Linked DNA regions of Homo sapiens. The protein of the gene in region 2 interacts with the protein of the main gene of each other region in a pairwise test. Each region holds a gene or a part of one and is shown on either strand. Other genes may lie near its edges. The genes, in order: C3orf52 and NSG2.

What was found.
Region 1: the proteins of NSG2 (region 2) and C3orf52 interact in binary tests that used the Homo sapiens proteins (3 or more experiments, as listed by UniProt).

The regions. Positions count from the first base shown.
Region 1 is NC_000003.12:112,096,060-112,103,591, reverse strand, and holds part of C3orf52 (TPA-induced transmembrane protein), read right to left. Parts: intron 755-7,532; coding exon 627-754; intron 1-626. UniProt on the Homo sapiens protein: Has a role in LIPH-mediated synthesis of 2-acyl lysophosphatidic acid (LPA). LPA is a bioactive lipid mediator involved in different biological processes, and necessary to promote hair formation and growth.
Region 2 is NC_000005.10:174,104,706-174,109,679, reverse strand, and holds the end of NSG2 (neuronal vesicle trafficking-associated protein 2), read right to left. Parts: intron 2,367-4,974; coding exon 2,175-2,366; 3' UTR 501-2,174; downstream 1-500.

The DNA.
Region 1 (7,532 bases), on a different chromosome or scaffold from region 2:
GACTGTGAGACCCCTGAAGGCACAGACAATGTGGCCCTGGCACTTGGCATGCTGTCTAGCACATCACAGACCCTCAATGAATACTATAGGTTGAATTAAATGTAGGACCTAAGGGAGTAAAAAGAACAGTGTCCTCCAGCATTTATGCAGCTGGAGGCCAGGAATCTTCCCTCTGGCTTTGCACTACAGTAAAGATATTTACTTATTTTTTTAACAAAGTTTTATTTTAGGCTCAGGAGAATACATGTGCATGTTTCTTCTATAGGTAAACTCGTGTCATGGCGGTTTGTTGTACAGATTATTTTGTCACCCAGGTACTAAGCCTAGTACCCAATAGTTACTTTTTTTCCTGCTCCTCTCCCTCTTCCCACCCTCCGCCCTTAAGTAGGCCCCAGTGTCTGTTCCTCTCTTCGTGTCCATGTGTTCTCATCATTTAGCTCCCACTTGTAAGTGAGAACATGTGGTATTTGGTCATAAAATATATTTATAAGCATCATTTTCTGCTAAAATCCAGACAAAGAATCCAAAATTGAAGCTACTTACTCTATAGCTCTATGCCAATTATTCTAGCAAAATTCATATTCTAATGTCAAGAACTCCTTAGGCAATATATAAGATGGAATTACCCTTTCGGTGAGCAGGTGAGGCAATTCCTCTTCAGCAACACACTCCTCTGGAATCTTCAGCATGATGAAGAATGTTTTGTTTGATGATAATTCAAGTATTTCATTTTCATCTTCATCAACATAAGTTACTAAAGAAAGTAGGGGAGGTGGAAATGAAAAACAAAAGTAAACACCTGCATATAATAATAAACTTATTTATTCCATTGACTGCCATACTTAAACATAACTATGAGCATCAAGGGTAAAGGCTGAACACAGCAAGCAAGTGTAAGCAGAAATGCTTTCTCCACTCAGCAAAATTGAGTAAAATACAGGGGTTTGCCTCTATCAAAATAAAAAGTTTGTTTTATGGCAAAGGGGTCTCAGATTCCACTGAATACAGACTGGGGAAAGGGCCCAAGGGAGTAGGAAGAATATGAACTTCCTTATTAGACTAAACCTGCAGCTTAGCTAGGTACACAGGTGTCAAGGCAGGTACTGGGAGACGGTGGGGGTGGCTAAACTACACTCAGAGCCCCAGGGTGTGCAGGAATTGTTCAGGTCAATGAATTAGCATGTATTAGGGTCAAGGTATATTTATAGACTCAGATTCCGAAATCATTTACATTTTATAAATGGGAAAACAGACCCAGAGGGTTGACGAGTTTGCCTAAAACAATGAGTGATGAAGGACAGGAAGTGGGAGCAAGTAACTGCATTGACTCACCTCCCAATTCTGTGCTGGCAAAGACCACCATGAAGAAGTGACATCATCGACTCAAACAACAGAGGTGACTAGAAAATGAGCATGCGAGTCCATGTCTTGAAGTCTCCCCAGGAAGACAGAGGATGAGCATGAAGTCATCACTCTAGACTATGTCTCACAGGACAGGTATGTTGACATGCTCTGCTTGCAGAAGGGAAGCTAAACTATATTCAGAGCCCCAGGGTGTGCAGGAATTACATTCCTGGGACAATTAGTTATGTATTGCTGCTTGTGTTTAATGACTGCCATCTAATTGATTTTTAAGTAGTTGGAACTAAAGGAAAATCACACAAAGTGAGGAGCCAGGCGCCAGAAGCTAGCACTACTGTGCTAATTATGCTCCCCTGGCTCCACAACAGCCTCACCAGCTGGTCCCACACAGGAGACTACCTCTCTGGCCCTGAGAAAGGCGTAGGTGGGAGGAACCAGGTGCTTATATTGCCATAGACTTTAAGACCATAGTGGAATAAATTCAGTGTTTGAGATGGAAGGACAGGTAAAAAGGAGGAAGATTCCTGGTATTCCGGTTACTTATTCTGTGATGACATCTGGAAATACGAGGCATTACGAGCAAGGAATGTGCAGAAAAGAGTTAATATAGCAGGCCTGAGATTGCTAGCATAAGAAAGGCCTCCTCAAAATTGGTCCTGGCTGGTGTCTGAGAACCTGGATTTTCCCCTGATGAGAGGGGCTCACTGTGCCTCAACTGTTTGTACAATGTGGCTAACATCTCCTTTCCTTCTGGGAGTCTGGATTTTTAGTGCATAGTAGGCAGAGGCTACGTATATGACCAAGCCCCAGTGAAAACCCCGGGTACTGAATCTCCAATAAGCTTCCCTAGTAGATGAGATCTCACATGTGTTGTCACAGCCTATCGCTGGAGGAATTAAACAAGTCTGGTGCAACTCCACTGAGAGAGGACACTTGAAAGCTTGCTCCTGGTTTTCTCTGGATTTTGCTGTAATTAATCATTTGATGTAATGTATCCTTTTGCTGTAATAGATCATAGTGATCAGTAGGACTGCATGCTGAGTCCTGTGTATCCTCCTAGCAAATTGTTGAATCTAGGAGTAATCTTGGGGACCCCCAAACGTAGGGAATTATCCCTGCGTCCTTAATTGTTATAAGTCATGACATTATGTTGTATGATTTAAAAAAAAAGTTACGCCTTCATAGCAAAAAATTTTGCAAAGTGCAGGAAATTGTAACAAAGCAAAGAAAAAAATACGAATAATCTTGCAATCAAGAGGGTTTTTTCCTCCTATACTTGATATTATATATTTAAGGTCCTAACAAATAGGTAATTTATATCCTGCTTTTTGTTGTTTGCTGCCATTATTGCTTACTTATCCTGATTGTTCTGTTGTAAACATATCAAAAGCCATTTCCCATGTGCTTAAAATTCCTTGCAAAGATTATTTCAATGGCTTCATAATGTTCATAATAGGCTCACCTATTTTCTTAAATATGACATTTATCATTTTTAGCTTTCTACTTCTATAAATAATATTTCAATGGGTATCTTTGAGCTCTATACCCACCATGTAGATTTCCATAATAGATATCAATGCCTCAGAAAACAATAGGGGATGCCAAGAGGATAGATACAAGGTTCAAATAACTGCTAAACTCAAGGACACTGAGAAGAGATGCCAAGTGTGAAAACAGGCCTCCCATAATAGCTCTGACACATATTTAATGTGTATCATTCAAATCATGAATCTGTACCAAGACCTATCTAAATAGTTGTGTGTGTCAAAATAATAACAATAGTAACAACGACAGGCTTACTCAGTCAGGAGAGTTTTTATGTCACTAATGAGATAATCTGGGCTATACTTATTCGTGTAGAAAAAACATATTTTTAAAAATCACAAAAACATGTGTTGTATGTTGAAGGAACATGAAAACAGTTCTTTGGCTAGAATATAAGAAATTAAGCTAGAGAGAGAGCCCTTAAACGCCAGATACCTTCAAGGGGTAATGGAGTGTTGTTAAACATCGCCCACGAAGAAAGTAGAGGCTGGTGTTTAATGGAGGTTAATCGGGTGGTCATGGATGGGATAAATGAAACGAGGAGAGATGAGGCAGAGAGGCCAACAGGCACAAGTTTGGAACAGACTGATTTGACTGACAGCAGAAGGAACAAAAAGAAAAAATTAATGAGAAAGCCCAGGATAGTAGAAACAGAGCTGGCTTTAAAGGCAGCCAGACTCAGTCTGAACTCCTGTTGGCTATTTGTTAGCCAGGTGACCTTGAGCAAGTCACTTAAATCTCTGAAGCTACTTCTCCAACAGAAATATCAACACCTACAATGTAGGTGATAGTAAAGATGAAAACCAACATGCATAAAGTATCCTGCATGGTGCCTTGTAGTAAGTGGGAAAGTTGCTATCAAGACACTACCAAGGAATAACTGGTAAGATTTGGCCATTATCTAGATATGAGAAAGAAGAAATCAAAAAGGTTTCCAAGATATCAAGCCCAGGAACAGGAAGAATAATAGCTACTGTATTAAGTATGACGTGCAAACATTCTACTATGCACCTTATGAATATATTTTCCTCACATAATCCTCACATTAACCCAATGAGTTAAATATTGTTGTTTTCATTTTTAAATGAAGACACTGAGGCTTAGAGAAAATGCATAATTTGTTCAGGTCAATGAATTAGCATGTATTAGGGTCAAGGTATATTTATAGACTCAGATTCCGAAATCCTTTACATTTTATAAATGGGAAAACAGGCCCAGAGGCTTGACAAGTTTGCCTAAAGTTACACAATTGGATAGTAGCAGAACTAAAATAAACTTGGTCTTATATAAAGGGTGAGTGAATGGGGAAAAGATGAACAAATTGGGATGAAGGATATGTTATGGTCTGAATGTTTGTGTCTCCCCGAAAAATGCATATGTTGAAATCTAACCACCAATGTGAGCGTGTATTAGTCCATTCTCACACTGCTATAAAGAACTACCTGAGACTGGGCAATTTATGAAGAAAAGAGGTTTAATTGTCTTACAGTTCTGCGGGCTTAACAGGAAGCAAGGATGGGAGCCCTCAGGAAACTTACAATTATAGCAGAAGGCTCAGGGGAAACAAGCATGTCTTACCATGGGGGAGCAGGAGAGAGAGAGAAAGAGCAAACAACAAAGAGCCACACACTTTTAAACCATCAGATCTCATGAGAATTCACACACTATCATGAGAATAGCAAAGGGGAAATCTACCCCCATGATCCAATCACCTCCCACCAGGCCCCTCTTATCATTCAACATGAGATTTGGGCAGGGACACAAATCCAAACAATATCAGATGGTCTTAGAGGGTGGGGCCTTTGGGAGGTGATTAGATCATGAGGGGAGAGCACTTTTGAATGGTATTAGTGCCCTTATAAAAGAGGCCCAGAAAGCTGCCTTTCCCCTTATACCATAGAAGATATAGCTAGAAGGCATGATCTACGAAATAAAAAGTGTGCCCTCACCAGACAGCAAATGTGTGCTGACACTTTGATCTTGGAGTTCCCAGCCTCCAGAACTGTAAGCAATAAATTTCTGTTATGTATAAGCTACCTAGTTTATGATATTCTGTTATAGTAGCCCAAGCAGACTAAAATAGCATACAAACAAATGGTAGTTTCACATGTATAATAATTGAGATGATGACAGTTATTTTTAGATAAATATCTCTAGCCAAGAGTACTTCCAAAACTCAGGAAAATTGTACAGATGTAGATCTAGGAGTCACCTTCTTGGAGGCATGGCTGCTGTCCTGGGAGTGAATGAGCTCTCCAAGAAAAAGAATGAAGAATGTGAAAAGTCACGAAGCTGAAGAGAAGCCTCATGAACCCACAATGCAGATGCCAAGAGCAAAAATAGCAAAATCAACCTAAAGTCCAGGAGTTCTATAGACTCAGAAGAGTATAATGAAGTTGGCAGAGCTAAAAGCTGACAATAAGGCAGGAGACAGAGAAATGTTGGCTTCCACGATCAGACAATTGCTAGTAATCTTGGGAAGAAAAATTGGGAACCAATAGATACAAGAGGTTTGGGAGTCTGCAGGAGGCAAGATTCAAATGCAGACCTTTCTTTCTGGAAGTGTGCCAGTGAAAGAAGGGAGAGAAAAACACATATCTAAATGAAGTAGCAAGAATCCTGATGGAAGATTGCTTTGAAGGAGAGAGGATGCTAGTGCATTTGAAGAGTTAACCCATTTATACCTGAGGTTGAACTTTTCGAATTTTTGCATTCAGACTTTGGTGATGACCTTGAGCAGTAAGATATAAATAACTTCTACATGATTAGCATTCCAATAATGGAACACTAGGCATAAATTAAGAAGAACCTGAGGATGCTTAGAGAGAGGAGGAGATATCTGAAGATCTCTGGGTCAGAGGAAGCTGAAAGATATTATATGGAGACCACAGGTAAGGGTGTCCATCTTGGTAGAGAAACATCAGCGATTTGAAGAAAAGATAAACAGGTGAAAATGGAAAGAAATTTCAAGGTACTGGGTCTAGCACTGCTCTCATGTTCCTGCCCCAAAGGACCTTGGCAGCTTATAGCTTGTTAATGCTGTCTGCCTAGGATTTTCCCATGAGTCACCCTACACCAGGGAGCATTACCCTGTGAAAACTGTCAGTCTGCCAGAACCACATGACATCATAAAATGTAGCTCTTATTCACAACTGAAAGGCAAACAAATCCACTCAACACAACGTCACTTAGGAAGTCGTTGCTTATATCTCAGTACCACAGCGTTCCTACTCATAAAAGGTGTATAAATTAAGAGATTAGGGTCAGGCAAGAATCTGGGGTATAATGTTGGGGGATATCACATGAGGGTCTCCAGGATGTTATCAATTTAAATCATGTTTCTAAGCATCCACCTACTTGTCACAGTTTTGTTTTTGAAATATTTAAAATATTTTGCCCCAACCAAAACTTCATTAGTAAAGTGTTATTCAGGGTCTCACCTCTCCATGACTAGGGTGAATTATTGAAGAAAGGAGAACCCTTGAGAACACTCAACTGATCCTCCAAATTATCCAGAAAGAAAATGACTTTGAGAAAAAGATGAAGGCTTTTGTTTCTGTACCTTTCAAATCAAGAAATTTATAATTCCTTATGAGGAAGGAAAGAATCCATTAATACCTTTTCCCTAAAGAGTCTCAAATAACAGAATTCCCTGGGTTCCACTCATAAAAATGGACATTAAAAAAATTTCCATGTCGATTGTGAGTCTGGTGGACAGGTAGCCTCTTTTCCCTAGCACATACAAAGCCCCTACTCAGTGCTTTAAGCTAAGCCATGATCCTGAATTTGTCATTCTTCAATGGCATACAAGGGAAGAGTAGTGGGCAAGCCCAACCCATGTACAGGCAATGAAGGCTGCACAGTCTGTAGAGAATGAGCAGCAATAATAAAACCTACTACAAGTTGGTCTGCTTTTATTATCACCACATGCTGACAATTCTTAATTCGAGTGAAAAAATATAACTCCCCACTGGACACCCTGCCCTGGGTACCCAGGTGTCCCCTCCCCAACTTTCTGTTCTGAGATGCTTTCACTGTCCCATTTTATGTCCACCCCAACTGCACAGTTTTGAAGGCTAAAGAAATTCCGTCTTAGTTATTATTTCACTGTATTAACTTCTGATTAATCCCAGCTCTGGAAATGCCTCTAAGATTTCTATTTCATCTACTGTTGCATGTATAAGAGCACATACTTACCATAAATCTCACCCTCAGGTCTAAACAACCTTAACGTTATCTACATGCCATAAATCTTGCCCTTATGCAATTATAAAACACATCCCTTCTGAAGCATGCATACCCTTTTTCTGTGGTATTTAAGCCCTGGGCCTTTGGGGTAATGGTGCAGGAATGCACCATCTCCTCTCACTGCTGCCCAACGCATGGCTTCTGTTCCTAAAACCCTGTTAAATGTTTCTTTCTGAGTAACTGGATTTGTCAGTTTTTCTTTAGCCTCTCAGCTTCCTCAGCCTTTCTGGGTAGTTTTGCAAAGACCTGCCTACTGAAGAACAAAAGTTAACACTTCCGCCTCCAAGCTTCAGTCTGAAGACTACAGAGCCTTGAGACAGGAGATTAAGGGGTCTAGAGAAGGGTAAGCAGGCAATGAATGGCAAATATAGTTCCTG
Region 2 (4,974 bases):
TCTAATGGGGTCAATGACCCCTACCTGCCAAGGTCATGCTAAGTCCTAAATTAGCAATTTAAAAAGGGGTCCTCAACATCTTCCTCCTCAGTTGCAGCTAATCACCAGTTGCATTAAGTCAAAGGCATTATCACACCTTTATTTTCATATCTGACTCCATCGCCAGACCTCAGGGCAATGATTCTCTGTCATCCGTTTCTGTATCCCCCATGCCCAGCACAGCCTGGCCCTAGAAGCTGCCCAGTAGGCATCTGCTGCATGAAGGACATTGAGCTGGCAGATAAGCAGCCAGGTACACCTCTTGGTCCTTCCTTAGGACCACAACACCATCTCAGGCCCCAGTTGCCTGAGGATGGACATTCCCCTACAGTCCAATTCTAGCCCCAGCCCAACAGGACACTGTAGGGCTCACCCTGCCCTCCGGGACCCCCACCCCCAGCATCTTCCCCATCAGGCTCACTGAGCAGGAGATAAAGAACATTGCAAAGGAAGGTCAAGACTCTCAGACACATCTATCTTTATTTGTTTCCTGTCAGAAAATTTCAAGAATTACACCAAAAAATACTTCCGCCTCTGCTACCTACTGACAAAAATACACCACAAAATTATAAAGCGCTCAGCGGTTTTGCTAGGGACAACTTGTTATTCCGCTTTGAATGACAAATGAATTTACAGGTGACTCAGGGTGATTGGAGGTTGGGGGAGAAGGGAGGAAAAATCAGATGAGAGCGTTTGGCAGGATAGTTTGAGCTATGCTAGTCTTATTACCCAGCTGTTGCATACGATGATCTCAGCAACACAGCAAGCCACAAAAAAATACCCTTTACATGGCCTGTGGGAGACTTGTGAGGAAGCAGTACCACATCTCAAATAACCAATTCTCCCAGCTGGTTCTGGCCCTGTGGGTCCTGGAGCTGACACCCTGCAGAACTGGCCTCCCTGAAACATTTGTGAGAGGCAGGCGAATGCCTGATACGGTTCCAGGGAACTGGGAGGCCTGGTCAAGGCTGGATGCTGCCTCCTTGTCAGGAGCTTCTAGAACTCGGTTGGGGAGTTTGGACAAATGTCCCCTTTTAACACAACGAAGTGGGCAAAAGACAGTCCCATTTTTCAGCTTCCTTTAGAAACGATTTGGCATTGTGGTGGCCCCAACCTTCAGGTCTCTTCCTGGCTGTCACTTGAGGCTCCTGGTTGGAATCCTATTGTTGTTGTTATTGTTATCAGCACTTTGGGAAACAACAAACAAACAAAAACTTAAAAGTCAGGTGCCTGTGCTTATCGCTTGTGGCCTAGTGTCACATGCCTGTCCCGTGCCTTCCTTCTTGCAGCCGCACCTTCCTTCCCTCCCTCTCCCCCTGCTGCTGTCTCGTCAACATGGGCAGTATCCAGGTGTGGATCTAGAAAATGCAAGCAAAAGACAAAGAAAATCTGCCCACTCCTCAGCGTTTGCTGATGCAGAACCCACCGTCGCAGGGTGGGCATTCAGAGCCCAGGCCATGTGGGTCTGCCCAGGTCCTAGGATGGAGGCCCAGAAAGTTTGTGCTCATCTTGCAAAATGCACCAGAGGCCAGCACATTTCACTATGGGTTATGTGCGTTCTGGGCTTAGTAATGCCAAAATCAGCTCTTCTCTCCAGCTCGGCCATTCCTCATTTCCTGCGGGCCTACCCTGCAGACCACAGGCTAATGGAATAGTCCCGGTCTGTGTCACTCATACTCTGCAACCCTGGAGCCCCCACTGAAGCTACGTTTTCTTATCTAAGAAGCCCACAGAGTCTGTGCTCTTCACTGCCCTTCAACGTCTTCTGATGGAGCCAGTTTAATGCTTTTTGTTCATGTTCTTTGTTTCTTTCCTTTTCTGCTGTTACATTTTCCTAACAAAGAATAAGCAGTGGCTTTAAAAATATCTTACATGGGAACAATCAACACGAAACATGCCTTTGTACATGAGCCTGACTCGGCGACGAATCAACAATACCAAGGAACAAAAAGAAATATCGGTTCAGACAACTCCAGCACACACCACGTTTTTGGTGCGTTCTTCCCCCCACCCTGCCCTGCCCCGCCCCCGCCCCCATATCCCAGGAGTACAGTGTTGTCTTGTAACTGGAGCTTGGCTTAGCCAATGGGGGTCCTCCTCTCCACCCCGCCCCCCATTCTGGCTGGGGCAGGCCTCTAGTGGCCCTGGGTCTTGGGCGGCTTGGGCTCATGGATGACAGCGGCTGCTGACAGCCACGGCCCGATGGCCCGGGCAGTGCTCTGCTTGGCCACGCTGTAGTGGCTGATGACTGTGTAGAAGCGGCTTCTGGAATTGGGGTCCTGGGAGGAGTAGTAAGCATCCAGGGAGGCTGGGATACAGCGTTTGTGCTGGGGAAGAAAGAGACAGAGTCAGGGGTCATTCAGCAAACTGCTCCCAACCTGCCCAGCAACACAGCCACCCTGACTGGAGTGCAGCTGCATCGGGCTGTCAGCCAGAGGGCAGGTGACAGCTCCTGACCTGGGCCTGGCACGCAGCAGCCTTCCCAACACCAGCACCAGCACAAACAGCAAAGCTCCACTTAGAAGAAGCCAGACGACCTGAACCTGATATTGACACTGATTCAAGGCCAGCCTTCTCTGCATACTGACTGTCCGGCTGTAGTGGATGCTGTAGAGACCCCCACAGACTCCCTCTATCTGGCTGATTCACCTGTCCCCTTGTTGCCTCTCTGGGCTGTTGTTCACAGCCAATGACTATTTATTTCCTGTATTTTATACTTGCATCTCTTTTCTCTTATATCAAAAGTCTTGCCGGATGCGGTGGCTCACGCCTGTAATTCCAGCACTTTGGGAGGCTGAGGCAGGCAGATCATGAGGTCAGGAGTTCAACACCAGCCTGACCAACAGAGTGAAACCCCATCTCTACTAAAAATACAAAAAATAGCTGGGCATGGTGGTGCACACCTGTAATCCCAGCTACTCAGGAGGCTGAGGCAGAAGAATCGCTTGAACCCAGGAGGCAGAGATTGCAGTGAGCCGAGATGGCACCACTGCACTCCAGCGTGGGCGACAGAGTGAGACTCCGTCGCAAAAAAAAAAAAAAAAAAAAAAAAAAAAAGGCTTCATTCCTAACAACATTCATGTAATGATGTATTTGCATTATCCTACAATAAACATAGAACAGTCACAAAATAGCACCAATATGACTACTAAGAGGCAATGAACCTGGGGACTACCGGACGAACTTGGAGGTTTCTCTGCAACTCCATGTGTCCCTAGAATACACTCCACCAAAGGTGTGAGGCGAACATGCTGTCATCTACAACCGGTTGAAATATTTATTTTCTTTGCACGTTTATGTCCTTAACTTGATATAGAGCTAGGTTCTTTAAACAACGAACCTCTTGTTTTTTCTCATGTATTTATTTTTAAATATGTCAAACATTTACATATTTCAAGGACAAATATTTAAGAAGATAGATCCGAAGAAGCCTTGCGTCCATCCCTTCCTCCTGATGAACCATTTTTATTAATTTTTAAAATGTATCCTTCCTGAATTTCTTTCCAAAACAATAAGCAAATAGCACTCTCCTCCCCTTTGCCCACACATAGGCAGGACCTTCCTTCCATCACTCATCCTTACTGTCTTAATGAGCATTCTCTTTCCGTGTATGGAGGCCTGCCTTCCTCATTTTCCCAGTTGTAGTGACGTCCACTGGGTGGATGTGTCACAGTTTATTCAACTGTCCCCTACTGTTCCCATTGTTTTGAGTCTTCCAGAACCTCAGCTTCTTTTTTTTTGAGACAGAGTCTCGCTCTGTCCCCCCAGGCTGGAGTGCAATGGCGCGGCCTCGGCTCACTACAACCTCCACTTCCCAGGTTAAAGTGATTCTCCTGCCTCAGCCTCCCAAGTAGCTGGGATTACAGGCATGAGCCACCACGCCTGGCTAATTTTGTATTTTTAGTAGAGACGGGGTTTCTCCACGTTGGTCAGGATGGTCTCAGAACCTCAGCTTCTGACCACTTGGAGTGTAATCTAGGAAGGCAGATCTGAACCCCCTCCATGGAAGTCTAGGAAGTCAGATTATACCCTTGGTGGAGTGTATTCTAAGGACACATGGAGTTGCGGAGAAACCTCCACGTTCGTTCAGTAGTCTCCAGGTTCATTACCTCTTAGTAGTAACATTGGTGCTATTTTGTGACTGTTCTATGTATATTGTAGGATAAGGCAAATACATCATTACGTGAACGTTGTTAGGAGCCAAGACTTTTGATATAAGAGAAAAGAGATGCAAGTATATAATGGAGGAAATAAACAGTCATTGGCTGTGAGCAGTGGCCCAGAGAGGCAACCAGGTGATAGGTGAGTCAACCAGCTAGAGGCGGTCAGATTGGAGTGTAATCTAGGCAGTGCAGAACCGAAGTATACACATTTTCAGGCTGGCACACTTCCTATTTGATCTCCCCACATCAAAACATAATTATTGTGATGTCTTGGACAACCTTCTTAACTAAACACTCTCTACATTTAATTCCTCATATGTGAAATGGGAGCCAAAGAAACCCTATTTCTCAGAATGGTTGTACAGCTCAATTGAGATAATGTTTAAGGAAACATCTAGCAAAGGGTCTGATGTATTAGAGATACTCAGCAAATGGTAATTATAAATATTATCAGCTGTGTTCACTCTGAAACAGACTCTGTCTTTATTGCAACTAACATTTGTTGAGAGTTCATTATCTAATAGGCCCTTTGTTAACTGATTTTACTTAAATTCTCTCCTTAAGGCCTCCCAAAAATCCTGGGAAAAGGCATTATGAGCCCCCATTTTGCAGGCAAGAAAACGAGGTTCAGAGGGGCAAGAAAACTCCCAGAGGTCATGCAGCAGGTTCCGTTCTTTCAGAGAAGGAGTTTAATCAGAGTGTGGGTCAAGGGGAGACTTGGAGACAGAGCTTCAAAGAACCTCAGAGGCACCAGCCCTACCTTCACACCTCT